Linked DNA regions of Homo sapiens. The protein of the gene in region 7 interacts with the protein of the main gene of each other region in a biochemical or structural test. Each region holds a gene or a part of one and is shown on either strand. Other genes may lie near its edges.

Region 1 (2,921 bases), on a different chromosome or scaffold from region 7:
CTCCTCAGGCAAGCAGGTCTCGGGCCCTGGGCTGAGCAGCCCAGAAAGGCACATCGCGCAGCTCTGCTTCTGAGCGTTGCCCTCCCTCCCCCGCCGGGATCTGTGTGGCCGATGTAGGTTTCCGCTGCTCCTGCTCCCGGCAGGGGCTTCCTCCATCAGCCATTCCCCGGCGTTCCTCAACCAGAAACCCACCCCGAGGCCCCTCGCAACTGCAAGCCTTGTTTATCAGCGACTCATGTTCCGCGTGGGCTCAGAGCTGCTGGAAACAGGCACCATAACCTCGGCAGGGCTGAAAGGATTCCAACGCCCCGGCCGCCTCCTGCCTCTTCCCCGTTCTCCCGCCCGCTCCTCCACGGGTGGATTTCCTCACAGGTGTGGGGCTGCTGGCCGTGGGGGCGGCCGCTTCAAAGCATCTACTTGGGAACACTGGCTTTTCCTTTCTTTGAAGCCATCAAAGGGAGGCTGGTGTCCGCCTGGCCCCTCCTCCTCCTGAGCCAGACCCCTGCCCCCACCAGTCCAGGGAAAACAGGCCTCCCAGCTCCCAGCCGACCCTGCAGTGCACAAAATACCAGTGTCCCGATGTGGCTCCTGGAGACCTCATCCGAAGAACAGGAACTAGAGACCCCTCCACCCACCCGCCCACCCACAGGCTGCAAGGATGGTCGCCACGCACTCAGCCTCACAGAGCCACCAGGGGGAGCACCACAGACGGCCCGGCCTGCTGCTGCTGTCCCCAGACCCAAATTCCCTGCCCGGTCCCCAGCGGGCCCCTCTGTAGGCCGGGCTCCTCAGCTCTCAGCCTCCCGCCTCGTGCGGCCACCACGCTTCCCAGAGAGCCTGCAGCCCCTTTGTGCTGAACACCCCTTCACACACCCCTACACACACACAGACACACCCACTCACACTCTCCTCACACCCCATGCCTCACACCCACTCACAGACCCACAGCCACAGCCGTGCACACATACACACTCATGCTTGACACCCCATGCTCACACACACCCACAGCCACACACCCCTGCACACACCCACACTCGCACTCCTACACACCCCATGCTCTCACACACACACGTACATCCGCATACACTCACCCACACACACACACTCCTCCACACGCACACTCAGGTACATTCACACAGCCACACACCCACACCCATCCACTCATGCACCCCTATACACCCACGTGCACGCACACACTCATTTCCCACACCTACCCACACTTACCCACACTCATACATCACATCCCACACACACCCATGCTCTCACACATCCACATGCACACACCCACACTCGCTCACACTACACACACACACACACGCACACCCGCTGCGCACTGGCCAGGCCTCCCCCGGTGTATGTGCCACCTCCCCAGCACCATCCCCCCTCCCAATGATCCTGCCTCCTTGTGAGCTCTGGAGGAAAACCTGCACCTCCCCCACACCATCCTCACACTGCCGTGGAAGCGATGCCAGAAAGAACTGGACTGTGGGGGGTTCAGCCAGTGAAGTGGGACAGGGCAAGCAGCCTGGCTGTGGGAGGGGATGGCCAGCAAGGGCAGAGAGGCAAGCCTGCCAGGGTGGCCAGAGCTGTGTGCCCTGCAGAGCTTCTGAACTGGACATACAGGTCCAGTCCCAAAAGTAGTGTCCAGGGAGCACCCCCAGCAGCCTGTGCCCTCCCGGTTGCTCAGTTAGAGCCAGACCGGGATGGCTCCGCATCACCTGCCGCTCCATTCACCCTTGTCACAGCAGCCCCGATGGGAGACACAGCCTGGCTGACCTTCAGATGCCCTGTGTCCTCTGGAGCGGGGGAGGCTCATGGAGGGCAGGCGGGAGCACGTGGGAACCGGCATGCAGAGGCACACTCAAAGTCCCTCCTTACCTCTCCGACCGAGTTGGACAGAGCTTGGACTATCTTCTCGTGGGCTGTGGCCACCACGCTCTGCCCGTTGATCTCGATGATGCGGTGGCCCACACGGACGCCCCCTCGCTCAGCAATGCCCCCTCTCATGAGGCTGCAGATCTAAGCAGACATGGCCAGGTCAGCACACGTGTTCCCGCCACACCCGACAGGCGCTCCACCACGTCCCCAAAGATGGGACATGCAGAGGGAAAAGCGCCACATGATGAATACGTGCACGTGCAATTCGCTGACTCACAGACAGAGATCCTTATGATATGCAGTATGTTTCTTTAAAACAAGAGAGTTAATGCCATGGTGTGTGGGGAACCACCAAGTTTTCTGACTCCCACGGTGGAACCTGTCCCCCAGCTGCACCTCCCCCAGGGCCGCTCCCTTTGTGGTCAGGCTAGAGACTGGTGACACAGCCCAAGGCCACTGCCACCTGGCCTCCTACGGCACAGCCTGGTTACCATCCTGGAAGACAGGCACTTAGCTGATGGGCGGGCGGGAAAGGAGAGGCAGCCTGTCCCCTGGCCACCAGAAAGGTGGGGCATCTGTTCTGTCAAGGGAAGGCTCTGTTTGCCGGATGCCCAAATGGTCTACATCGACAGGGAAGAGTCACTTTATTCCTACATCCCCCCCCCGCCAAGTGACGTAAGGGCATTTTGTGCCAAATATACTGGTTCTGGTTTTGTTGGAGACAGGGTCTCATTCTGTCACCCAGGCTGGAGTGCAGCGGTGGGGGCTTCCATTCCAGCCTAAAAGTGACGCCAAACAGATGGACAGGAGGGCCTGGGAGCGCCTGTGACCACGAGACTGGACAGAATGGAAAACAGGCGCCGTGCACACCCGTGTTCACAGCAGCAGTGTTCACAACAGCCGAGGGTGACAGCACGGACTAGCGGAGAAACAGAATGTGCTCTAGGCCTGCAGGGAAACAGTACTCAGCCCTGGAGAGGAGGGAGAGTCTGAAGTGTGCTACAACACGGACAGACCTCGGGGACACTATGCTGCATGAAACA
Region 2 (3,500 bases), on a different chromosome or scaffold from region 7:
TAAAACACCAAAAGCAATGGCAACAAAAGACAAAATTGACCAATGGGATCTAATTAAACTAAAGAGCTTCTGCACAGCAAAAGAAACTACCATCAGAGTGAACAGGCAACTGACAGAATGGGAGAAAATTTTTGCAACCTACTCATCTGACAAAGGGCTAATATCCAGAATCTACAATGAACTCAAACAAATTTACAAGAAAAAAACAACCCCATCAAAAAGTGGGTGAAGGATATGAACAGACACTTCTCAAAAGAAGACATTTACGCAGCCAACAGACACATGAAAAAGTGCTCATCATCACTGGCCATCAGAGAAATGCAAATCAAAACCACAATGAGATATCATCTCACACCAGTTAGAATGGTGATCATTAAAAAGTCAGGAAACAACAGGTGCTGGAGAGGATGTGGAGAAATAGGAACACTTTTACACTGTTGGTGGGACTGTAAACTAGTTCAACCATTGTGGAAGTCAGTGTGGCGATTCCTCAGGGATCTAGAACTAGGAATACCATTTGACCCAGCCATCCCATTACTGGGTATATACCCAAAAGATTATAAATCATGCTGCTATAAAGACACATGCACACGTATGTTTATTGGGGCACTATTCACAATAGCAAAGACTTGGAACCAACCTAAATGTCCAACAATGATAGACTGGATTAAGAAAATGTGGCACATATACACCATGGAATACTATGCAGCCATAAAAAATGATGAGTTCATGTCCTTTGTAGGGACATGGATGAAACTGGAAACCATCATTCTCAGCAAACTATTGCAAGGACAAAAAACCAAACACTGCATGTTCTCACTCATAGGTGGAATTGAACAATGAGAACACATGGACACAGGAAGGGGAACATCACACACTGGGGACTGTTGTGGGTGTAGGGAGGGGGGAGGGATAGCATTAGGAGATATGCCTTCCAAATTTTCTATAGTCCTTGATGATGCTAAATTTTCATCACTCTTCAAACCCTATTTTTGGATAACACTTCTTTAAAATGAAACCACAAACCAATACAGACCCCCAAAGCTGTCTGTGCTCTGAGAACAGGTTCTTCCACTACCAAAGCACTCATCTGATGCTACTCCAGTGGCTTGTGTCACCACTGGTCATGTCTACTGAACTCTAAGCTCCCTGAGGGCAGAGTCTGTCTGTCATATTTCGAGTTGATCCATGAGGCCTAGCTTGGCGAATGGCCTCTATCAATTGCTCAGTAAATATTTGTTGAATGACTAAGGATGATTGCATTTAATGTTTAAAGGTGTTCTCTGGCCAGATAAAATGTATAAAGTAGGAAAAGACATTTTACATACTGTACAACACCTTTGCTTGGGCTAATTCTTCTGGGGAACTAATAGTTCACTTAGTAACCCCATCTCTGGTTCAAATCTGATGAATTGCCTATGCTTACTTGCCTTATATTGTAAGTGATCATCAAGATACATGGAATACTGTTGAGATATGGAGAAGAATGAGGTTAAGTCTTTTTGTGCTACATAGAATTGGAAAACAAAACATGCTGCAGCACAGTGTGTGCGCGTGTGTGTGTCTGATGCTAGAATAAATCAGAGAGAATACTCAACAAGCTGTTATTGAAGAGCAGAGAATGGGTAAAAACTGATTACTCTACATTTTACTAATTACAGCATTTTTACCAAACACAAAATTTAATATTAAAGATTAAAATACAAAGTGGCAATATAATAAATTGCTAATAAATTTGTATACACCACTTAACTACAACCTAAAAAGAAAAAGAGGGAAAAACAAAAACCACAAACTTAAAACAAAGAAACCCAAAATATGATCTGCCTACTGGAAGAAATAGAAGTAGGAAAGTGGCTCAAAAAGTTGTTCGTGGATGAACAACTAAGATCTCCTTCCTGGAGAACTAAGGGCAGGGCCATTAAATTAGACATTTCGTGATCTCTAAATAGAACTGAGAGGAGATTCAAAGAAATGCAAAATAACAGCTATAGAGCATTATGGAGTCTTTGGCCTGAAAGAATTTTTCAGATTTTGATGGTCCAACTGCTGTCATTTACTTCTGTGTGTGTGTGTGTGGATGGGGGTGTGTGCGTGCATGTGTGTGGGTGTATGTGTGATTGCTTTGGCTTGAGTTTTGGTAAGAAATTACATATCATGTCTTTTAAGATTATTTTTAGATATATTTCTCTTTTTCACCACACATACACACACACACACACAGAGACACACACACACTTTTTATTTTCTGCTTCTGACAACTAGCTCAATGCAGGGGATGCATTGTCCTGCCACTGCTTCAGTAAATGTGACAGGTATCCTGTGTTCTCAGCAACTGCTGCAGGATTCTCTGGCATCTGCACTTTGGCTGGAGTTGGCTACAACCATCCTTGGAGGATGAGGAGAAGGAAGGAAGAGAGGGAAAGCGCATAAGACTGGGCCACCTGTCCACCTTCTCCAACCCTCACCATTGCTCGAGGCTCTCTTAATCCATTTATGAGGAGGTAAGTACAGAAAAAAAGACAGATGAGCTTATGGCTGACTCAGGCCTGAAATCCTTGCCTTGGATAATGGGAAGAAGGCCATCTTTTTGAAAGAGAAGATCAGGAATATTTCAGTTACAATACTCTCCTGACACATTTTCACCATTCCAAACTCCACCCAGTGTTCTACAGGACTATTTATGAAACTTTTAAAATCTTGACCTAGGCTAGGCATGGTGGCTCACGACTTTAATTCCAGCACTTTGGGAGGTTGAGGCGAGCAGATCACTCGAGCTCAAGAGTTTGAGACCAGCCTGGCCAACATGGCAAAACCCCATCTCTAATAAAAATACAAAAAATTATCCAGGTGTGGTGGCGTGTGCCTGTAGTCCCAGCTACTCGGGAGGCTGAAGGGGGAGAATCACCTGAGCTCACGGAGTCAAGGCTGCAGTGAGCCGGGATTGCACTGCTGAACTCCAGCCTGGGCAACAGAGTGAGACCCTGTTTCAAAAAATAAATAGATAAATAAATAAAAATAATTTTTAAAGAATTTTAAAAATTAAAAAAATCTTGACTTACCATAATAATTTACATTTTACATCATAGTACATGGATCACATACACATAAGATTTATATGTATACATAAATAAATAAATATATATAACTAAAAACTTTCATGAAACAATACCTTTACTACGGTATAATAAAAATAATATAAAATATCTTTGGTATGAAAAAGATAATATAAAATATGATTTTGCTAAGAACCTGATGCAATCTGATGTATGCTATTCTTTTTTTGTTTTAGAAAAAGGAAGTTGGTTCCAACCCGCTAAGTTGATTTTCAATCCACTAGTGGGTCATGCTTGAAAACCACTACTTTCAGGTTTTCTCTGATTTTTTACAGCAATTCCATATGGGGTATTTGCTTTGATTCCTCATTTAGCTCCCTTCTTTGGGCCACTGAATCTTGTCATATGTGCATTGATTTTGCCGCATTTGCTCAGCCCTACTCA
Region 3 (3,500 bases), on a different chromosome or scaffold from region 7:
ACACTGAAGATTACACACATTGGGCTTATTCAGAAGTACAGTGCAAAAGCCTGGTGCCAGGTTTCTGGCTCAAAGTGATACCTACCCTGTGCTGCACTCTCAGAGACACAGCATAGCCTGCATTACGAAAGAGGTCTACAGCATCCTGGTGCAGCAGGTTCTTTAGGTCTTGGCCATTTACCTGTCAAAACACCAAAGAGTAGTAAGAAAGGAAGAAGGCTATTAGAAGTCAACAATTTATTTTCAAATGGCCAAACTTTAAATAACAAACTCCTTCAGAGCAAATTGCAAGGACTAGGAGTATGGGCAAAGTTACTTAGAGCTCAGAACTTAGAACTTTTTTCATTTTCAAAACTATGTTTTCCTAGAACTGAAGTTCCACAGGCCATCTGAAGAGAACCTATGTAAAATAAAAAGTGGTCTCTCCTTCCTCTTAGCTTCTATGCCTGTCTCGTTTTGACACTTGGGAATCTGTTACCGTATTAGCATTTCTTCCATGAGTGTTAACCTGCTTCCTTAAAGATAGCATGGTCTTCCAGGTTACCACCCTAACCTTTATATTCCTAAGCCCTGGCATTGCCAGCTGCAACTGTAGAAATATAACTCTATGAAACTCTCCACCAATTTATTTTGATGTCATATAAATCTATACTAGCCCATTCTATTGGGCTTTTCATAGTGAACAACTTCCTGTGATTCCACGGATACTCCTATCCATTATATCCAAATTAGTAAATTAGTCATTTTTTAATCAAAACTTAGTAAAAACCATATTCCTGTGATGATATAAATCCTTAAAAAAATTTCAGTGTAGGTCACTCCTACCACTTAGAGGTGAGAGATGTGAAGGAATACTTGTATTAATACTTTTTGCAGTTAGGAGTGACATCGGCCACAAGTAATAATCTATCTATCCTATGCTGTATTCAGTGACACAGCACAGCCCACTTAGTGCAAGATTACATATCTTTTATACTTGTCAATGTCATCGTTAACAGTAGCAGCAATAAGAACATCTGATATATTTCTTTTGATAGGTTCTGTACTTTACATACATTATCTCTTTTAATTCTCATGATAACCCTATGAGGTAGACATTATTTTTATCTCGTTTCCACAGATAAAGAAACTTGAAGCTCAGTGAGATTTGTGCTGGAGCTAGGGCTAGGATTTGTAAATAATGAAAGAAAGATCAAAGTGTCCTTGCATTTCACTGTTCCTTCTGCACTGTTATTCTTCCATCTTGACTCACCAACTATCCTCTGCTCAGCTAATGCTCAAGTCACTCCCTTACTCAACTCTCTCATTTTCCTTGTCGCAATCTTCCTTCTCCAAGGCACTCATAATCTTCCCTCTACTCTCTCTCTTGCCAATACAGTTGGTGAATGAATCTACCAACACTTCTGCCCTATAGACAGTCTACCTTTGTAAACCAATAGTTTCCAACTCCATTCCACTTCAGTCACCAATTGACGTAAACTTAGACTTCAATATTAGACATGCTTCAGCTCCAATATCTCAAACTCTTAAAAACCTGACAACAATTTCCACTCTTTTCATACTTTCTATTCATCTACTGAATTTCCTCCTTGTAACCTTTTTAGACTTTACTTGCATCCTTGCCCATCTAGGAGTTCCTGTTGTAATTTCAACAAAGCACTTGGTAAATCATTAGAATCCTTTGTCCCCAAGATCTTCTGCCATCTTTCCAGTCCTGGGCCATATTCTGCAATCCTTTTCTTGCCATCATTAAGTTGAATATTCTGGGAGAAAGGTATATTCTCATTCTCCACCATAGACCCATACTAGCTGACTCCAGCTCATCCTTAAAACCGCTTCTACTCATTTGCTGAACTCCTTAATAAACACGCAGTGATAGCTGTTCCAGACCTTTTTCCACCACCGTCTCCAACCCCATTTCTACCTCTCTCCCTAGCTGATTCCTTTATCTTTTGTGAGAACACTGAGGACTTCTGATAAATGCTTTCTACATTTTCTTTCCTTCTCCCTCAAAGTTTCTTTATATCTTCTCACTACTCCTTTCCCCTAGTCTCTGAATTAGATCTATTTCCTTTTCAAGGTGAAACCATCCACTGATGATCTTGATCATACTTCTTCTAACCTCCTTACAAAACTCACAGACACTCTGTCTTCTTGATTACTTAACTATTATCTTTCTCTGCTCCTTCTCTCAACTAAAATTATACACCTCTATAAAGAAAACAATACAACTATTTCTTGGAACGCATTATCACTCTCCTCCCATCTTCTTTCCTCTTTCTTTGACTGCTAAATTTGTTCTAAGAACTGTTTGCATGCACTACCTCTATTTCTTCAGCATTCATTCTCTATTCCCCTGTAATCTCACAATGTATGAGGTAGAAGGGAAGAACATGTTTTTCTAAAGGTCACCAATAACTTCCAATCACCAAATCCTATAGCCGTTTTTGTCTTCAGACCACCTCCTCCCTTTTGTAATTTTCTCCTATCTTGGCATATGAACACTTAGCATTCTTTGTTCTTAAATTATTCCTTTCCGGATTTCCTCTTCCCTTTCTTTCTCCTTAAGGTGAGTCAAGGTTTTTCAGTATCAATCCTCTATCTTCTTTCTTTCTCTCCCACTGTGAGCTTTAACAGTTTCAACCATAATCTGTAAGATAACTCCCAAATTTGTATCCCTACTTGTACTTCTGGATTTGCCAGTTTCTTGCTGGATGCCTACACCTGTATACTCTGCTAGACCCTAATTCAACATATCCAAAACCTCTTTATTACTTCCCACAAAAATCAGAATACATACCTTGCTTCTTATTGCCACTATCATTCCTTCAAACTTTTTTTTTTTTTTTTTTTTTTGAGACAGAGTCTTGCTCTGTCCCTCAGGCTGTCACAGTGGTGTGATCATGGCTGACTGGAGACTTGAACTCCTGGGATCAAGTGATTCTCCTGCCTCAGCCTCCGAAAGTGCTGGGATTATAGGTGTGAGACATTGTGCCCCAGCCCAGGCTAAAATTTTAATAATAGTTTTAAACTCTCTCTGCTGTCAACTTTCATATACAATAGATTGCCAAACTCCACAGTCTAACACTATGACATCTCTCATACAGTATTTTCTTTCCTATTGCCTATTTTAGGCTGTTGACACTAAAAACAAAACAAAAACTTGGGACCCCAATCCACCATGTCAAGAGAAAAAATTAAGCTGCAAGCTGAGTCATGCAATAAACTGCTTTTCCTTTTGTTCCCAAGCAGATAGCTACAGATAACAGGTTAAATATCTCCACAGGTAATTACTCTATGTTCACCTTATCTTATGTAAAGTCCCAACTTACTAAGCAAAAGAAAATACGTAATTGACTATTCCCTTGCCTGCTCCTTTCCTCTGGCAACATGTGGATTACCATACCTTCCCTCTTTGCTCTTCAGCCTACTTTAAATATTAAAGCCCTCAAAATCATCTTTGGAGAAAGGAACATACCTGTCTCCCAGGCATGTCCTTA
Region 4 (3,500 bases), on a different chromosome or scaffold from region 7:
ATCAATTATATGAAGGTAAAAGAGAAACTAAGGGAGACCAGTCTTTAACTCAAAGGCTAAGGATACTTAAATCTACCCCTCAAGTCTCTGGTGTAAATGATGTCATGAGGAAAATGTTTGGGCTCTGGAAGCTGTGTTTTCTGATGGCAAACTTTTTTTTTTTTTTTTGAGACAGAGTCTCGCTCTGTCACCCAGGTTGGAGTGCAGTGGCGTGATCTCAGCTCCCTGCAAGCTCCGCCTCCCAGGTTCATGCCATTCTCCTGCCTCAGCCTCCTGAGTAGCTGGGACTACAGGCGCCCACCACCACACCTGGCTGATTTTTTTTATTTTTAGTAGAGACGGGGTTTCACCGTGTTAGCAAGGATGGTCTCGATCTCCTGACCTCGTGATCCGCCTGCCTTGCCTCCCAAAGTGCTGGAATTACAGGCGTGAGCCACCGTGCCCTGCCTCTGATGGAAAACTTTAAGATAGGTCTTTCTCTTGGAAATTGCCACACAAGTCAGTTTTGCAATAGTGACATCTTCAATTACCAATCTACAAAAATCCCATGCATGACCATGTTTTTAGATTACAGGAGCCACTGAAGCCAATTTCTATCTGTCATAGGATTTGGGAAGCTGCCAATGTCACCTAATGAGTCACAGATAATAGGCTACAGAAAGTCATAGCATTTCTCAGCCTAGATTCATAACTACATAAACCCTACCTATCTCATCTTCTTGTTCATGTCTGACAGAGGCCAGCCAACTACCCGAAGCATTTCAGGTTCTTAAACTTAGACACCCATACAAACACACAGTTCACAGAGCTGCAACTTTTTCTGCTCTTGTGATAGTCAAAAGATAAACAATGCCGACTGGGCGCGGTGGCTCACGCCTGTAATCCCAGTACTTTGGGAGGCCGAGGCAGGCGGATCACGAGGTCAGGAGATCGAGACCATCCTGGCTAACATGGTGAAACCCCGTCTCTATTAAAAATACAAAAAATTAGCTGGGCGTGGGGGCGGGTGCCTGTAGTCCCAGCTGCTTGGGAGGCTGAGGCAGGAGAATGGTGTGAACCTGGAAGGCAGAGCTTGCAGTGAGCTGAGATCACGCCACTGCACTCTAGCCTGGTTGACAGAGCGAGACTCCGTCTCAAAAAAAAAAAAAAAAAGAAAGAAAGAAAAAGATAAACAATGCCAATCTCAACTTTTTACCCAGGCCTATTCATGGATAATAGTCAAAGAAATCTAGAACCTGAACAAGTTTATTGACATCAGCATTTTCATCACCCTATTCTTCCCCTCTGCTAAATGTTTCTTACAACCAAGTCCTATGGATGTGGAAGTATGAGGTACCTTTAAGTGTTCAAGGTCAGCCTCTATCTTATGAATGTACTCCATGATCTGGCTCTGTGAATCTGCACAAGAGGAGGGACTCTGGATCTCAAAACAGGAATACTCCATAGCTCCCCAGCGCTGCTGGACCAGAAATTCGGGGGTGAATGGTGAAATTGCCCCATCGGAGTGAGTATTCTGAGGAGAATGTTGCTGCTGGTGGGTGGATTCCACAGCAGGGATGCCTGTCATGGGCTGCAGGGTAAGTGAGGAAGCAACCTCCTCATCTGTGGAACTCTCCTGCACTGGGTCATAGCCATCAAGGATCAAATAGTTTCCTATGGATAGAGACAGAATAGTTTGATAAGACCAGTGCTGCCATTAGAAAACAGAAATAGCATAGTGTGCTGACAACTTCAACTTGAAAAGTTATTAAGAGAGGGAAAAGCCATTAATTCCTGAGTTTAGTTTCAGGTACATCAGAATTTCCTCACTTCAGATGAAAGCTAAACTCTGCAAACTTTCATGGTAATTTCCAAAAAATTTCATTTCAAAAGTTTAAAGCTGGAAACTACAGTGCCTAAATGATCTTGCTACCACTTCCCCTGCCAAACGCCTCTCTTGCCCCATCTCCTGCCATTGTCTCCCTCATCCAGTGTTCGATCACCACAAAAAGCTTGCTCTTTGACACAAAGCCTCTGCCCCACTCTGCTCTCTGCTGGAATAGTAAGCTCCCAGGTACCCACCCGGCTTTATTCCCTCATTTCATTGAGGTCTCTGCTCAAATGCTACCTCATCGGAGGTCCTAATCCCTGATCACCCTGTTTGCCTTCATTACTCTCCGTCCCCTCAGTCTGACTTATGTTTCTTCCTAATACTTCCTGAAGTCTATTTATTTGTTTACTTATTTACCATCCTTCTTTCCCCTAGCTTCATGAGAAGATGGGATTTTTCTGTGTTTTATTCACTGCTATATCTCCCAGCACCTATGATGAGGTCTGGTACAGAGTAGATTCAGTATTTATCAAATGAAGGAATAAATATTGCACATGTGTGAACACACACACACACACACACCTGGATACCAATACAACATCCATTTCAAAATACAGGACAGTTAACAATGATCAAAATCAAAATCAAAGTTTAAGTGTGAAAGATACTTGCCTGAGATGCGTAAATTAACATCCTTCTCTTCCTTGTTAACTGCTCCATCACCTTCTGATGGATTCTCATCACTATGTGCTTCACGGGCATCAAAAAAGTGCTCTCCACTGTCATCAAGACCCCCTTCTGGCTCCATGGTAGGCATCTCTGGGGTCATAATCATGTGGTCCATTACTAAAATGTTACTTGCCTGGCTATCCTGGGGTGCCAGTCCCACTGAATCCCGTGGAGCAAAAGATTCAGTTGAAGTCCGTGGACTGTAACAAGTTGCAATGTCACCAGTTCCAGTTCTAAAGGGCATATGTCCTTCACCAGAATGATAGGCCTTAATATTTTCAGAGTTCTGGATGACACTGTCTGTCTGCGGCCCCTGAGAGGCTGTTCTGTATCTTGGGAAATGTTGCCAGTCTTCCTGAACGCTCTTCTCAGTCAAACCTAGCTGTTGCACCAGCAACTGCTTCAACAAACCCACTAAACGATTTAGGAAGGAGGGGGAAAAAAAACATATTCACAACTATAACCTCAGGCTGCAAGAATTAAATTAGCTGACTTACCAATGATCTATCTTTAAAAAGTATCTTTTAATGACATATTAAAATGTTAATTATTAATTTCATACAATCATCTTACTTCATACAATCATTTTCCATTTTGTTTTGAAGATGAAATAAAGCACCATCTTTTAGAGAAGATTTAACGTTAAACTAAACTTGAAAAGATCTAAGCATTCTGAATAGGGAGATACTACTATTTAGAACTCCTCAATAACCAATATCATGCCTCTATTTTTTCTTCTATATAACTAGAATAATACCCTAAAGGTACTTCTTAAGAATGTTGAAAGGCTGTGTTAAGCTAGACAGAAAAAGCTAAAAAAAAGTTCTGCTTTTTCCAGATCCAGACACTATATGCATATTATTTCCTCTAATTTTATGAGATACATACATTTACTGAAAATAAGAACCAATTTAATTTTGAATGGGCCAAGTGTATGCTATGAGGTCACCCAGACAATGAT
Region 5 (3,500 bases), on a different chromosome or scaffold from region 7:
TTTGAGGCTACAGTGAGCCATGATCATGCCACTGTACTCATCTGGGCAACGGAGTGAGACCCTGTCTCTAAAAATAATAATAATAATAATAATAGTCATCCACTATACCCACTCTATCTTCCTAGCCTTATCTTCCATTCCTGCCCTATTTCTCTATGACACAGCCACCCTACGTACTTGCTCAAGTTTTTTCCAGTCTGAACTTCATCCCTTCACTTATTCATGAAGTCATTCATTTGAGTAGTCAACAAATATTTATTAAGTATCTCTTCTATGCACTAGGCACTGTAAATTCAAAGATGACTGAGAAGGAGAAGGACAGGAAGCCTCCTTCATCTTTTGTATTATCCACAGCAACTAGCACAGTGCCTTGTACATAATTGGTGCTCAATAAATGTTTTATGAACTAATGTGCAGGGGGAGATGCGATAGAATCCCTGTCTAATATGAATCAACAAGTATTTGGTCCAATTCAACATATGCCTATTGAGTACCTACTGTGTATTAGGCACATATGCTATGGGGATTTAAAAAAATTAAAAAAAAAGATGTACTTGCCAAATGTATTTTTATTTATTTATTTATTTAGAGACAGGGTCTCACTCTGTCACCCAGGCTGGAGTGCACTGGTGCGACCACAGCTCACTGCAGTCTCGACCTCCCGTGTTCAAGCCATCCTCCCGCCTCAGCCTCTCTGTAGTCCCGAGTAGCTGAGATAACAGGTATGCACCACCATACCCAGCTAATGTTTTAGTTTTTTGTAGAAATAGGGTCTCGCTATGTTGCAAGGGCTGGTTTCAAACTCCTGGGCTCAAGCTGTCCTCCCACCTCAGCCTCCCAAAGTGTTAGGATTACAGGCCTGAGCCACCACACCCAGCCCCAAATGTATTTTAGAGACGGAGGAGTTGAGAGGAGAGAGAGATCACTTTAGTCTAAAATGATCAGAGAAGATTTCACAGAGGAGGTGAATTTGAATGTAGAGCTGAAGGATAGGTATAGTGATATGGAATAGGAGAGAAGCATAGGCAGAAAGGAAAGGGCATTCCTGGTGAGTGAAATGGAATGAACAAAAACATAGAGGCAAAAAAAATGTACAAGGTACGTTTAGGAGATCCTGGGGTAAGAAACTTGGCTGGAGTAGAAGGGTCCATGTAGGGCTTTGTTTCACAAGTAGATCAAGTGTATCAAAATCACTTGGGGAGCTTGTTAAAATGCATATTCCTGGACTCCAGCTTCCAGACCTACTGAATCAGAAGCTCAGGAGGTAGGACTCAGGAATCTGCATTATAACAAGTTCCCTCAAGCAATTTTAAGACACATTAAAATTTGAGAATCAATGATGTGGACCAAGCATGAGAAATAGGGTTGGAAGAATATACAGGGTTAGGTCCACACAAGGAGAACTTTGAATGCCAGGCTAAGGAGGCTGAAATTTATCCCACAGGCAATCAGGTATCACCCTCCAAGGATGATGATCAGAAGCATTATGAATAAAGGATATTCCACAACATTAATCTAGCAGTTGTGTGTATTATGGACTGGAAAGGAAAGAGACTAGTGCAGTGTGGCTGTGAGGTGGTGGCAGGAGTCAGGGTGGACTGGGGCATAGGGGATGAGTCAGAGATGGCTTTGAGGTTTCTAGACTGGGAGACAAGAAGCCTTATGGTAAAAGAAAGGTGAGAAGAGTGAGTCATCTCTGAGAAATAATGAGATGAGTTTGTGAATACTGAGTCTGAGAGCAAGCTATCCAAGAGGAAATGTTTAGCAAGCAGTTGGAAATATAGGACTGAACCTCAGGAGTGGGGTTAAGTTTGGGCTAGAGAAATGGGAATGGTTGGTAAAGAGGTGAGAAGGGAAGCCATGCATGCCTGTGTGTCCTTGTCAATAAAGAAAGTGGAAAGCAGGAGGAGCTGGAGAACACCCAGATTTGAGGGGTAGTAAGAAGAACTAGCAATAAAAGAGAAAAAAGGAGGGGTCACTTGGCTGGAAGGAGACCCAGATATTAGAACCTAGCAGAGAGTTCTTTCAAAAGCTGCGGGTGGCTAGTAGTGTGGCTAATGGCAAAGTGAATTTGAGGCACAGAGCAAAAACACTGGCTACGGCATGCATGCTGAGAAAGCTGCAAGAGTGCACACACCTGCTCATTCTCATGTTCCTTAACACAAACACACAGAAATAGACACACCTGCTCCTACAGATACACAAGTAGCACCTCTTTCCCTCTCTCTCCTTTCCCCGCCCCACGTTATACACATATTCCCATTTCCAGGCTCATTTTCTGACTACCAGGGATTGGGCACTAGTGTGCCACAGGCTGTTAATGTTCTGTTTTAAGGATGGTGCCTCAGGTCTCAGAAAAGGGTGCTCTGCCTGTCATGGGTGGGAAATAATACAGAACCCCAAGATCACTGTCCTTGCCTTTGGCAGCTCAGCTGAGGGGAGGAAAGGAGGGAAAATGGCATGTTTCTCTGGATTTGCTCCCTACCCTACCCCTTTGCCCCTAGCCCCAGGATTTCTCAGCAGACAATAAGGTCCACCCCATTTTGAGAGTCCTTCATTTTGGCTGCCGATAATGCAAGAGAATGTTTTTGTTTCTGAACTTATGGTAAAAAGGAAAATAGAAGTCCTTGAGAGAAGAGCCAGAACAGAATTTTCTGCTGGGAATGCTAATGGCCTTAAGGCTGCCCCACAAACAGAAGCTGACTTGAGTGTGCTTCCTCCCAGGGGGCCTGTCAAAGCTAAGGGTCTTCATCTAGTATCAATAGGTATCAATTCTAGTCCCCCTAGCAATGATTGCTAGGGCCTATATGTGAAGGCAAGAACCCCCCAAAACCAAGCTTGTCTGCATGAGCCTCTCTTTCCACAATTTGCCCCAGGTATGTGTTGGGGTTTGAGGGTGTGTCTGAGGGGTGTGTGTCTTGTGTGTGATATGTGTGTGTGTATTTGTGTGTATGTGTATGTATGTGTGTCTTATGGCTTCATTCAGTTAGCCTGGAGGTGCCACAAAAACAGGGATCTTTCCTCTGTTGCATTGGTGCTGCCCCTCCAAGTGCCTTATCAGGCATTAGCCACGGAGTCCAATCATTTATGCGTAGTGGGGGAGGGTGGGTACAGAGTGCTTCCGTTGTCCTGCATCCACCCATGCTCCCTCCAAGGGCTGAAGTAAGGATTACTGCGGTGGGGCAATTCCTCTCCTCTACTCATCCCACCCGAGACTCCTCTGTTACCCACCCCCACCCCCATCTCCAGCAAGCCTTTCCCAGCTTGCTGCTATCATCAGCAATCCCAGGGCTTTCTTGTTGCACTTTTTCAATCTACTACTGCTCCTAGAGGATGTCGTTGGTCACAAAATCCCCCAACTGGGCCACACAGCTCACTTCTCAAGACCCTCGGACTGCACCACTTACAAGAGGGAGGGGTCCCCTGACTCATTCCAAATGCAGCTCGCAGCCTCATAGGAGTCCCCAGACCTCTCCTCCAGTGGGGTAGAGGCTCTGTTG
Region 6 (3,500 bases), on a different chromosome or scaffold from region 7:
AGGATCGCTTGAGGGCAGGAGGTCAAGACTATCCTGGGTATCACAGCGAGACTCCTGTCTCTACAAAAAGTAAAAAATTAGCTGGGTGTGGTGGTGCACCTATAGTCCTAGCTACTCAGGAGGCTGAGGTGGGAGGATCGCTTGAGCCCAGGAGGCTGCAGTGAGCTGTGGTTGCACCACTGCACTCCAGCCTGGGTGACAGAGCAAGACCCTGTCTCAGAGAACAAAAGAGGAAGGCTTCAAACATCCAGGACACGGGCTCCGACTGCCTCCTGCAGAGCGAGCCCGCCCCACGCATGTCCCCTGCACCACTCCTTCTCCGCCTACCTCGGCTGGCCTTCTCAGCGCTCAGACCCACGGCTCTTCCTGAACCTGTGGCCCCCCTCACCTGCCGTGATGGTGTCCACCTCCTTGGCTGCCAGCTCCTCCACGTCCGACCTCTTCCTCAGCTCAAACCTCCGGGATAAACCTTCTCGGGGTTTCCATAATTCCTGGATCAAGAGGGGCTTCTCACTGTCCCCAAACACCCGAAAGCACCGGGCCTGCCACCGCTGCCCAGCATCGCCGGCTTGGCCCACCACGTCACACAGCACGTACTGGCCGGCCTGCCTGGGGTCCAGGGCGTACCGCTCCAGCGCCTCCTTCACCAGCTCACGGGCGCTGGAGGTGCCGGTGGCCAGGACGCTCTTGTAGTGGGTTCCTGTGCAGACACTGTCCCCAAACACCTTCAGGACACCAGGGGCCGACAGCTGGGTGGAGAGCTCGGCGGGGTCATCGCTGGCGCCCAGGCTGGAGAAGGTGGAGTCCAGGTCCCGGTACTTGTAGCTCAGCGTCCGGGACAGCATGCTGGACAACAGCTGGCTCTGCCGCTTCAGTTTGCTCTTGGTGGGCGGGGACATGATGAAGTGCGTCCCATAAAACATGGTGGGTGAGGCTTCATGGATGAGGACTGTGGGCTTCAGCCAAAGGATGTGGGGAGGCCGTGACCTGGGTGAAAAAGTGAGAGAGGTTAGCGCCAACCATCGTGACCACCAAGAGCAAATGAGGCCACAGGCGGTGACTCCTGCCCGTCATCCCAGCGCTTTAGAAGGCCAAGGTGGGAGGACGGCTTGAGCCCGGGAGTTCCAGACCAGCCTGGGAAACATAGTAAGGCCCCGGCTCTACAAAAAATTTAAAAATTAGCCAGGCATGGTGGTGTGCACTGTACCCACTGCTCTGAAGGCTGAGGCTGGAGGATGGCTTGAGCCCAGGAGTTCAAGATTGCAGTGAGCTATGATAGTGCCACGGCCCTCCAGCCCGGGCAGCAGAGCAAGACCCCATCTCAAAATCTAATGGACATAACAGGCCGTGGGCATCCTGGCCCCGCAGACCTGACACCAGAGCACCTGAGCAGAGGATGTGGCTGGAGCCTGCAGGGCCACCAGAGACCGAGAGGACTAAACGGGCTGGAGCGCCCTTCAAGGAAAGCCATTACTGGGAAACACAATGAGGTCGCCTAAGTAAGACACGCTCCGCTGCAGGGCTTGGATTTCTGGAAAGTGCTGGGCGCAGCGCCCGTGTGCAGTGAGCATCAAGGAGCGCCCCACCCGGAGCCGGCCCCAGCACCATCACAGCCACAGAAGAGCAGCGGGCAGCCCAAGGGCAAAGCTTCGCCTCTCCGTAAACCTCGTGTCTCCTACCCCACAGGCTGCGACGTGGGAAATGGGTCACAAACACAGTGCAACCAGGAAAACAGGCGAATCGCAGCCACGTTGGCAGAATAGACCATCAGACATTCCAGACACAAACCCCCAGAATCTACCCCTCAGGGCAAGAGACCCGTCCTGGCTTGAAGGAGATACTCCCTGGGATGGCAGCACTGAGTGGCCTCGCAAGCACGGCGGGCACAAAGGGCCCCTCTCGAGCCGGTGCAGGCATGGCCGGAATGCAGGCGTCCCGCCCACCACAGGCCGCGGGTGCCCGGCGCTCCAGGCCACAGAGATGCAGTCTCCTGGGGAAACGGGAAAACAGCCTGGGACGCGTTGGCGTGTCATACAATCACACTTCTAATGTCCGTAGCGTGCCCAGGGCCAGGAGTTCCAGATGGTTTCTCAGTCTCCCTCCAGAACCTCTGTGGGGGCAGGAGGGCAGAGAAAAAGGAAGGCAGGTCTCCGATTTGGAAAAGGTGAGGCTGGACTGCAAGGCAGGAAAATACTGGAAAACTGCGCACACATCTCCCCATTACTGTACCCCACTTCCGTGCTCATGTTCTCACCAAAGACAAAGGTGGCAGACGAGTGAGCCAGGAGGAAAGCCTATTTTCTGGAAAGCTCTGGAAAGAGTGGTCCAGGTCCCAGTGAACACAGCACGGGTCGCCTGCCACTGCGACCGGGGTCAGTACTAAACACCGCAGCAGCCAACTGTCACTGTCCAGGCTTGACTCACTCGTCACGCTGCGGGCGCTGCAAAAGGCTTCTGGAAAGGACGGTGGCTGCCTAGGGCCACAGAAAGCAACCAGGGAACCCCTCCAAAGAAAAGGAGCCACACTGTCCCTTAGGAAACTAAACAGTGGAACCGCCCCAGCCTCCAAAGCTGACACTGCGAACTGGCCTCTTTCTAATATCACCGGGGCGTGGGTCATCTTCTCTGGAGCCTCTCACTGCCCGCCAGAGCTGTCATGGGTGAGTCCTGAAATCAGACCACCACTCGCTTCCTCCAGAACCAGCCCAGGTCAGCCAGCAGCTGTGCTTTCTCCGAGGACCTTGAACTCTTCAGAAATACTTCCGACAGCTTCGCACACCAGAGACTGGGTTCCCAACGCGGACGTCTGCCCTGCGGGGTGGGTGGCTGGCCCTTCTCCTGTTCCTATAGCCCACTGCGGACACTTCACCACGGCAAAGGCTTTCGCTGTGCCTGGCTTTCTGAAGAGGTGAATTTGCTGTAACAGGTCACGGAGTTCCCAGTACAGGTCATAAGCAGATGGAGCCTTGAGGTTCCATCGAGCCAGGCCATAAAGGAGTAAAGGAGCAAAGCCTTTGTTTCTCTTCCTCTGAGGAAGGTGCAACGAGTGGCCTTGTCAAATCCTAAGAAGCTCAGAGCCGGCCGCAGCTTCCCCCACGGACTCATCAAAGGCCTCGGTTTCATTTACAACAAAAGCATTTTCAGACAGTGCTCACATCACAAACGTGCGGCCTGGCCTGTGCACACCACACCAGCGGCTTCCAATCGCCCTCTAGTCTGACCTCAGTCTCCTGTGGTCAGTTTTCAAAGTGAGTACTTGGAATCACAGAACAAAACCCCTCAAAGAGCCTCTCCAGCCGGCACTTATTAACCATCCATGAGAGCTGCACAACCCTGCTCCAAAGCACCTCTCCAGATGCCCCAGGCTTAGAAGCCTCCAGGCAGCACACACTGGCAGAGGGTCGGCCACCACCTTTTCATAGTGCTCATTTCCAACGGGTTCCCCAGGGTGCAAAGGCAAAGTGCAGGTGGTGGATGGTACAGCCTCTGCCACCAGGCAG
Region 7 (4,258 bases):
CAAGCGATTCTCCCACCTCTGTCTCCCAAGAGCTAGAATTATAGGTGTCCGCCACCACGTCTGGCTAATTTTTTGTATTTTTAGTAGAGATGGGGTTTCACCATATTGGCCAGGCTGGTTTTGAACTCCCCGACCTCAGGTGATCCAACAGCCTCAGCCTCCCAAAGTGCTGGGCTTATAGGTGTAAGCCATCAGCCCAGCCTCTAGTGCTGTTTCAAAGGGCACTAATGTAACCATCATAATGAAGAAGTCATTTACACTTTAAGGAATTTTAAGCTGGGCCTTAGCATCAAGTTCCACGATTAGCATACAAGTACTCTGCCAGTTACTGACAATACTAGCATCCGGATCACCTGACTCCCAGTGCCAGAAATTTCCCCACTATTTATTCCACAAATATATGTTGAGCACCTACTATTATACTTAATAGTAGTATCTACTATGTGTTACCATTTTAGGTGTTTGGGGTACATCAATGAATAAAACATATATCCCTGCCTTTGGAGTTGATTCATTATGTTTGTGACACACAACAATAAGCATAAACCTTGACAATGATAGCATTATTACAGTTTTATAGATAGTCCTTTCTCCTATTATGTATGTGCGTTTTTAAGTACTTCTCTCTCCCTTTTTTTTTTCTTTTTTGAGATGGAGTCTTGCTCTGTCACCCATGCTGCAATGCAGTGGTGCATGTCGGCTCACTGCAACTTCCACCTCCCAGGTTCAAGCGATTCTCGTGCCTCAACCCCCTGAATAGCTGGGATTACAGGCACCCACCACCACGCCCAGCTAATTCTTGTATTTTTGTAGAGAAGGAGTTTCGCCATGTTGCCCAGGCAGCTCTCGGACTCTTGACCTCAAGTGATCCGCCTGCCTTGGCCTCCCAAAGTGCTGGGATTACAGGCCTGAGCCACTGTGCCAGGCCTCCTTTTTTTTTTTTTTTTTTTGACAGAATCTCACTCTGTTGCCCAGGTTGATGTGCAGTGGTGCAATCTCGGCTCACTGCAACCTCCACCTCCCGGTTCAAGCGATTCTAATGCCTCAGCCCTCCCGAGTAGCTGGGACTACAGGCGTGTGCCACCACACCTGATTAATTTTTGTATTTTTAGTAGAGATGGAGTTGTCCCATGTTGCCCAGGCTGGTCTCAAACTCCTGGGCTCGAGTGAACGGTCCACCTCAGCCTCCCAAAGTGTTGGGATTACAGGCATGAGCCACCGTGCCAGGCTTTTTTTTTTTTTCTTGAGACAGGGTCTCAGGTGCTGTCACCCAGACTGGAGTGCAGTGGCAGGATCAGAGCTCATTGCAACCTTGACCTCCCAGTCTCAAGCAATACTCCTGCTTCAGCCTCCCAAGCAGCTGGGACTATAGGAGAAGGCCACCACATCTGGCTATTTTTTTTTTGTAGAGATGAGGTCTCGCTATTGTTGCCTGAGCTGGTCCCAAACTCCTGGGCTCAAGCTATTCTCCTGCCTGGGCCTCCCGAATGCTGGGATTTCAGATATGAGCCACCGAGCCCAGTCTAAAGTACTTATCTCCTAACACACACTCTCTCCTATGTAAGTAATCTCTTTTATCAGTGGCATATCTGGGGATTCCAAGACTTAAAATAGACAAGCTTTCACAGAAACCTCTAATAGGGTTAGCACCTTCTCAGGCTGGAAACCTCCTTCAATATCAGTTTCCTAAATTTAAAAAACATGGGGTGTGGGAATTTTTTTATTCAGCGGCAGTATGGCAGCAAACGTGGAGGAGACTCGCGTTTTCATTGCCATCCTTGCACCCACCTAATTGTTAGTGTACCTGAGCTCCTTTGCTTTCATCCTCCCCTGCCAAGCGTCAGGTTCCTATCGGCCTGGGCTACATCACATACAACCCTGTATTTCACCCTCCATATTCCTTCACATTCCACGGGGGGCACTAACATCCTTCAGGTATCCCTTCCCTTCCCTGCTCAAGAAACAATTCCTCAGTAGTCACTTTTTATTGAAATAAAAGTTTGTCCCACATTTCCTAACAGGCATGTCCCAAATACAACACCTTGTCTGTGCTTCAAGGCACTTTTATTTATATCATTTGATCCTCGGTTGAATGGTGGGGGTGAGCGATCATTGGCGTGAGACCAAAAGTCTGGAGTGAAGGAGATTCTTGCTCAGGGCCAGGCCTGGGGTGAGGCGACCGAGGCACCCAGGACGCACGTGAGGAGGCGCTCACTGCACTTGCGCGACCCTGAGTCAGTGCTCCTTTACACTTTGTGCCTTGGGAGCCTTACTCACCTCACCCTAGTCCCGGCCTTGTTTTTACTGCTACCCCTCCTCAACATCCCCGAAAGCCATCGCAAGATCAGCCCCGGTCTCTAGCCCTCCCCAAGCACAGCTCCAGGTCCCCAGAGTCCACCTCGCTAAAGGCCCCCGCAGGTGCCACCGCCCTCCCGCGCCCTTTGGGCGCTGGGGCTCCCGCCCACCGGCCCACACCGCCATCCAACGGGATTCCCCGTCCCCGAGCCCGCCCCCGCCGCTCCTCCTCCCGGGCACACAGCCCTCGCAGCCCCAGACGCTGTCCTCGCCTGGGTCTCTCTCGCCCCGTCGCCCCCATTCCCCCACCCTCGGAATGAGGAGGGGCGCCTGCTACCCCCGGCCAGGCAGGCAGTGTGTCCCTCGGATTCCTTCCAATTTCCTGATCCCTCCGCCTCTCCCTCCCTCAGGCCCAGGGCGGCGAGGGGAGGAGGCCCGGCCCCACCGCCCGGCCCAGGCTTGTTTACTCACTCACCCTCCATCCCGAGCCGCGGGTCCCGCTGCTAGGACGCATGCGCGCCGCGGCCCCACCCCTGCGCCGTGCCCCGCCCCGCGCCTCCTGTCGGCGCGTGCGCATTGACTTACCCGTGCCGCGCGGACGCACTACTGTCATTTGCCGCCAAAACCCCGCACTCAGGAGTCCTGGCGGGTGCAGCCTCCCAGACGGCTTCCAAAGCGGCGCTGGCAGGGGAGGGGAAGGGCTCTGGGGAAACCTTCGCAGAGCCACTAATATCTTCCTGAAGACCCTATTCAGCGGATTTGCCATCCCCACGCGCTGGTGACAAGCCACATCTCACTTCAGCGTTTGAAGCCAACCCAGATCACCTTCATACCGATGCTTCACCCCTACCAGTTCTCCAGACACCGGTCTATGGGTTCTAAGCCCTTTATTTATGTCTGATCTCCCTATTTCTGTTCATAGTTTTCTAGTCACTTAGAATCAAAATTATAGCCTTGTATCGAAATAAATCCCCACAAGACACCTGCTAGTTACAAAGGGAAAAAAATAGCAACTTTACAGATAAGAATCTGTCAGACACCACCTTAACTAAGTGATCAAAGTTAGCATCACTAGTGATAAGAGGTATTGTTTTCTTCTTCTTTTTTTGCCGGGGGGCGAGGCTGGACGGAGTCTCGCTTTGTTACTTACACAGGCTGGAGTGCCGTGGCGCGATCTCGGCTCACTGCAACCTCTCCCTCCCGGGCTCAAGCAATTCTCCCGCCTCAGCCTCCCAAGTAGCCAGGAATACAGGTTCGTGCCACCACGCCCGGCTAATTTTTGTATTTTTAGTAGAGATGGGGTTTCACCGTATTGGCCAGGCTGCTGTCAAACTCCTGACCTCAAGTGATCTGCCTACCTCGGCCTCCCAAAGTGCTGAGATTACCGGCATGAGCCACCACGCCCGGCCTCCCTCTTCTTTTTAAGGAGACAGGGTCTTGCTGTGTTGCCTAGGCTGGTCTTGAACTCCAGGGTTCAAGCCATCCTCCCACCTTGATTTCCCAAAGTGTTGGGATTACAGGCATGAGCCATTGCCCCCAGCTGAGAGGTATTCTTACCAGGTCCCTCTGAACATGATGCAATGAGAAGCGCACAAAATCACTTCTGTGGTATTCTTGACGAACACGCATAAGCTGATTTTTTGTGCGTGTTGTTTGTTTGTTTGTTTTGAGACAGTTTCACTCTTGTTGCCTAGGCTGGAGTGCAATGGTGCAATCTCGGCTCACTGCAATCTCTGCCTCCTGGGTTCAAGCGATTCTCCTGCCTCAGCCTCCCAAGTAGCTGGGTTTACAGGCATGCACTACTATACCCGGCAAATTTTGTAATTTTAGTAGAGATGGGGTTTCACCATGTTGTCCAGGCTGGTCTCGAACTGCTGACTCAGGTGATCCCCCCACCTCTGCCTCCCAGTGCTGGGATTACAGGCATGAGCCACAATGCCCAGCCTGCATAAGCTGAATTTAA

What was found.
Region 1: the proteins of EZH1 (region 7) and APBA2 interact in a test that uses a peptide from one of them, tested with the Homo sapiens proteins (one large-scale study listed by IntAct).
Region 2: the proteins of EZH1 (region 7) and IL16 interact in a test that uses a peptide from one of them, tested with the Homo sapiens proteins (one large-scale study listed by IntAct).
Region 3: the proteins of EZH1 (region 7) and SYNJ2BP interact in a test that uses a peptide from one of them, tested with the Homo sapiens proteins (one large-scale study listed by IntAct).
Region 4: the proteins of EZH1 (region 7) and ARHGEF12 interact in a test that uses a peptide from one of them, tested with the Homo sapiens proteins (one large-scale study listed by IntAct).
Region 5: the proteins of EZH1 (region 7) and FRMPD3 interact in a test that uses a peptide from one of them, tested with the Homo sapiens proteins (one large-scale study listed by IntAct).
Region 6: the proteins of EZH1 (region 7) and RADIL interact in a test that uses a peptide from one of them, tested with the Homo sapiens proteins (one large-scale study listed by IntAct).

The regions. Positions count from the first base shown.
Region 1 is NC_000015.10:29,112,974-29,115,894, reverse strand, and holds part of APBA2 (amyloid-beta A4 precursor protein-binding family A member 2), read right to left. Parts: intron 2,020-2,921; coding exon 1,879-2,019; intron 1-1,878. UniProt on the Homo sapiens protein: Putative function in synaptic vesicle exocytosis by binding to STXBP1, an essential component of the synaptic vesicle exocytotic machinery. May modulate processing of the amyloid-beta precursor protein (APP) and hence formation of APP-beta.
Region 2 is NC_000015.10:81,199,879-81,203,378, reverse strand, and holds part of IL16 (pro-interleukin-16), read right to left. Parts: intron 2,979-3,500; exon of another isoform or gene 2,909-2,978; intron 1-2,908. UniProt on the Homo sapiens protein: Interleukin-16 stimulates a migratory response in CD4+ lymphocytes, monocytes, and eosinophils. Primes CD4+ T-cells for IL-2 and IL-15 responsiveness. Also induces T-lymphocyte expression of interleukin 2 receptor. Ligand for CD4.
Region 3 is NC_000014.9:70,375,591-70,379,090, forward strand, and holds part of SYNJ2BP (synaptojanin-2-binding protein), read right to left. Parts: intron 182-3,500; coding exon 86-181; intron 1-85. Other genes in the region: SYNJ2BP-COX16 protein, read right to left, coding at 86-181. UniProt on the Homo sapiens protein: Regulates endocytosis of activin type 2 receptor kinases through the Ral/RALBP1-dependent pathway and may be involved in suppression of activin-induced signal transduction.
Region 4 is NC_000011.10:120,479,413-120,482,912, reverse strand, and holds part of ARHGEF12 (rho guanine nucleotide exchange factor 12), read right to left. Parts: intron 2,954-3,500; coding exon 2,483-2,953; intron 1,654-2,482; coding exon 1,337-1,653; intron 1-1,336. UniProt on the Homo sapiens protein: May play a role in the regulation of RhoA GTPase by guanine nucleotide-binding alpha-12 (GNA12) and alpha-13 (GNA13). Acts as guanine nucleotide exchange factor (GEF) for RhoA GTPase and may act as GTPase-activating protein (GAP) for GNA12 and GNA13.
Region 5 is NC_000023.11:107,452,652-107,456,151, reverse strand, and holds part of FRMPD3 (FERM and PDZ domain-containing protein 3), read right to left. Parts: intron 1-3,500.
Region 6 is NC_000007.14:4,877,217-4,880,716, forward strand, and holds part of RADIL (ras-associating and dilute domain-containing protein), read right to left. Parts: intron 988-3,500; 5' UTR 924-987; coding exon 389-923; intron 1-388. UniProt on the Homo sapiens protein: Downstream effector of Rap required for cell adhesion and migration of neural crest precursors during development.
Region 7 is NC_000017.11:42,742,241-42,746,498, forward strand, and holds the start of EZH1 (histone-lysine N-methyltransferase EZH1), read right to left. Parts: upstream 2,801-4,258; 5' UTR 2,778-2,800; coding exon of another isoform or gene 2,771-2,777; intron 1-2,770.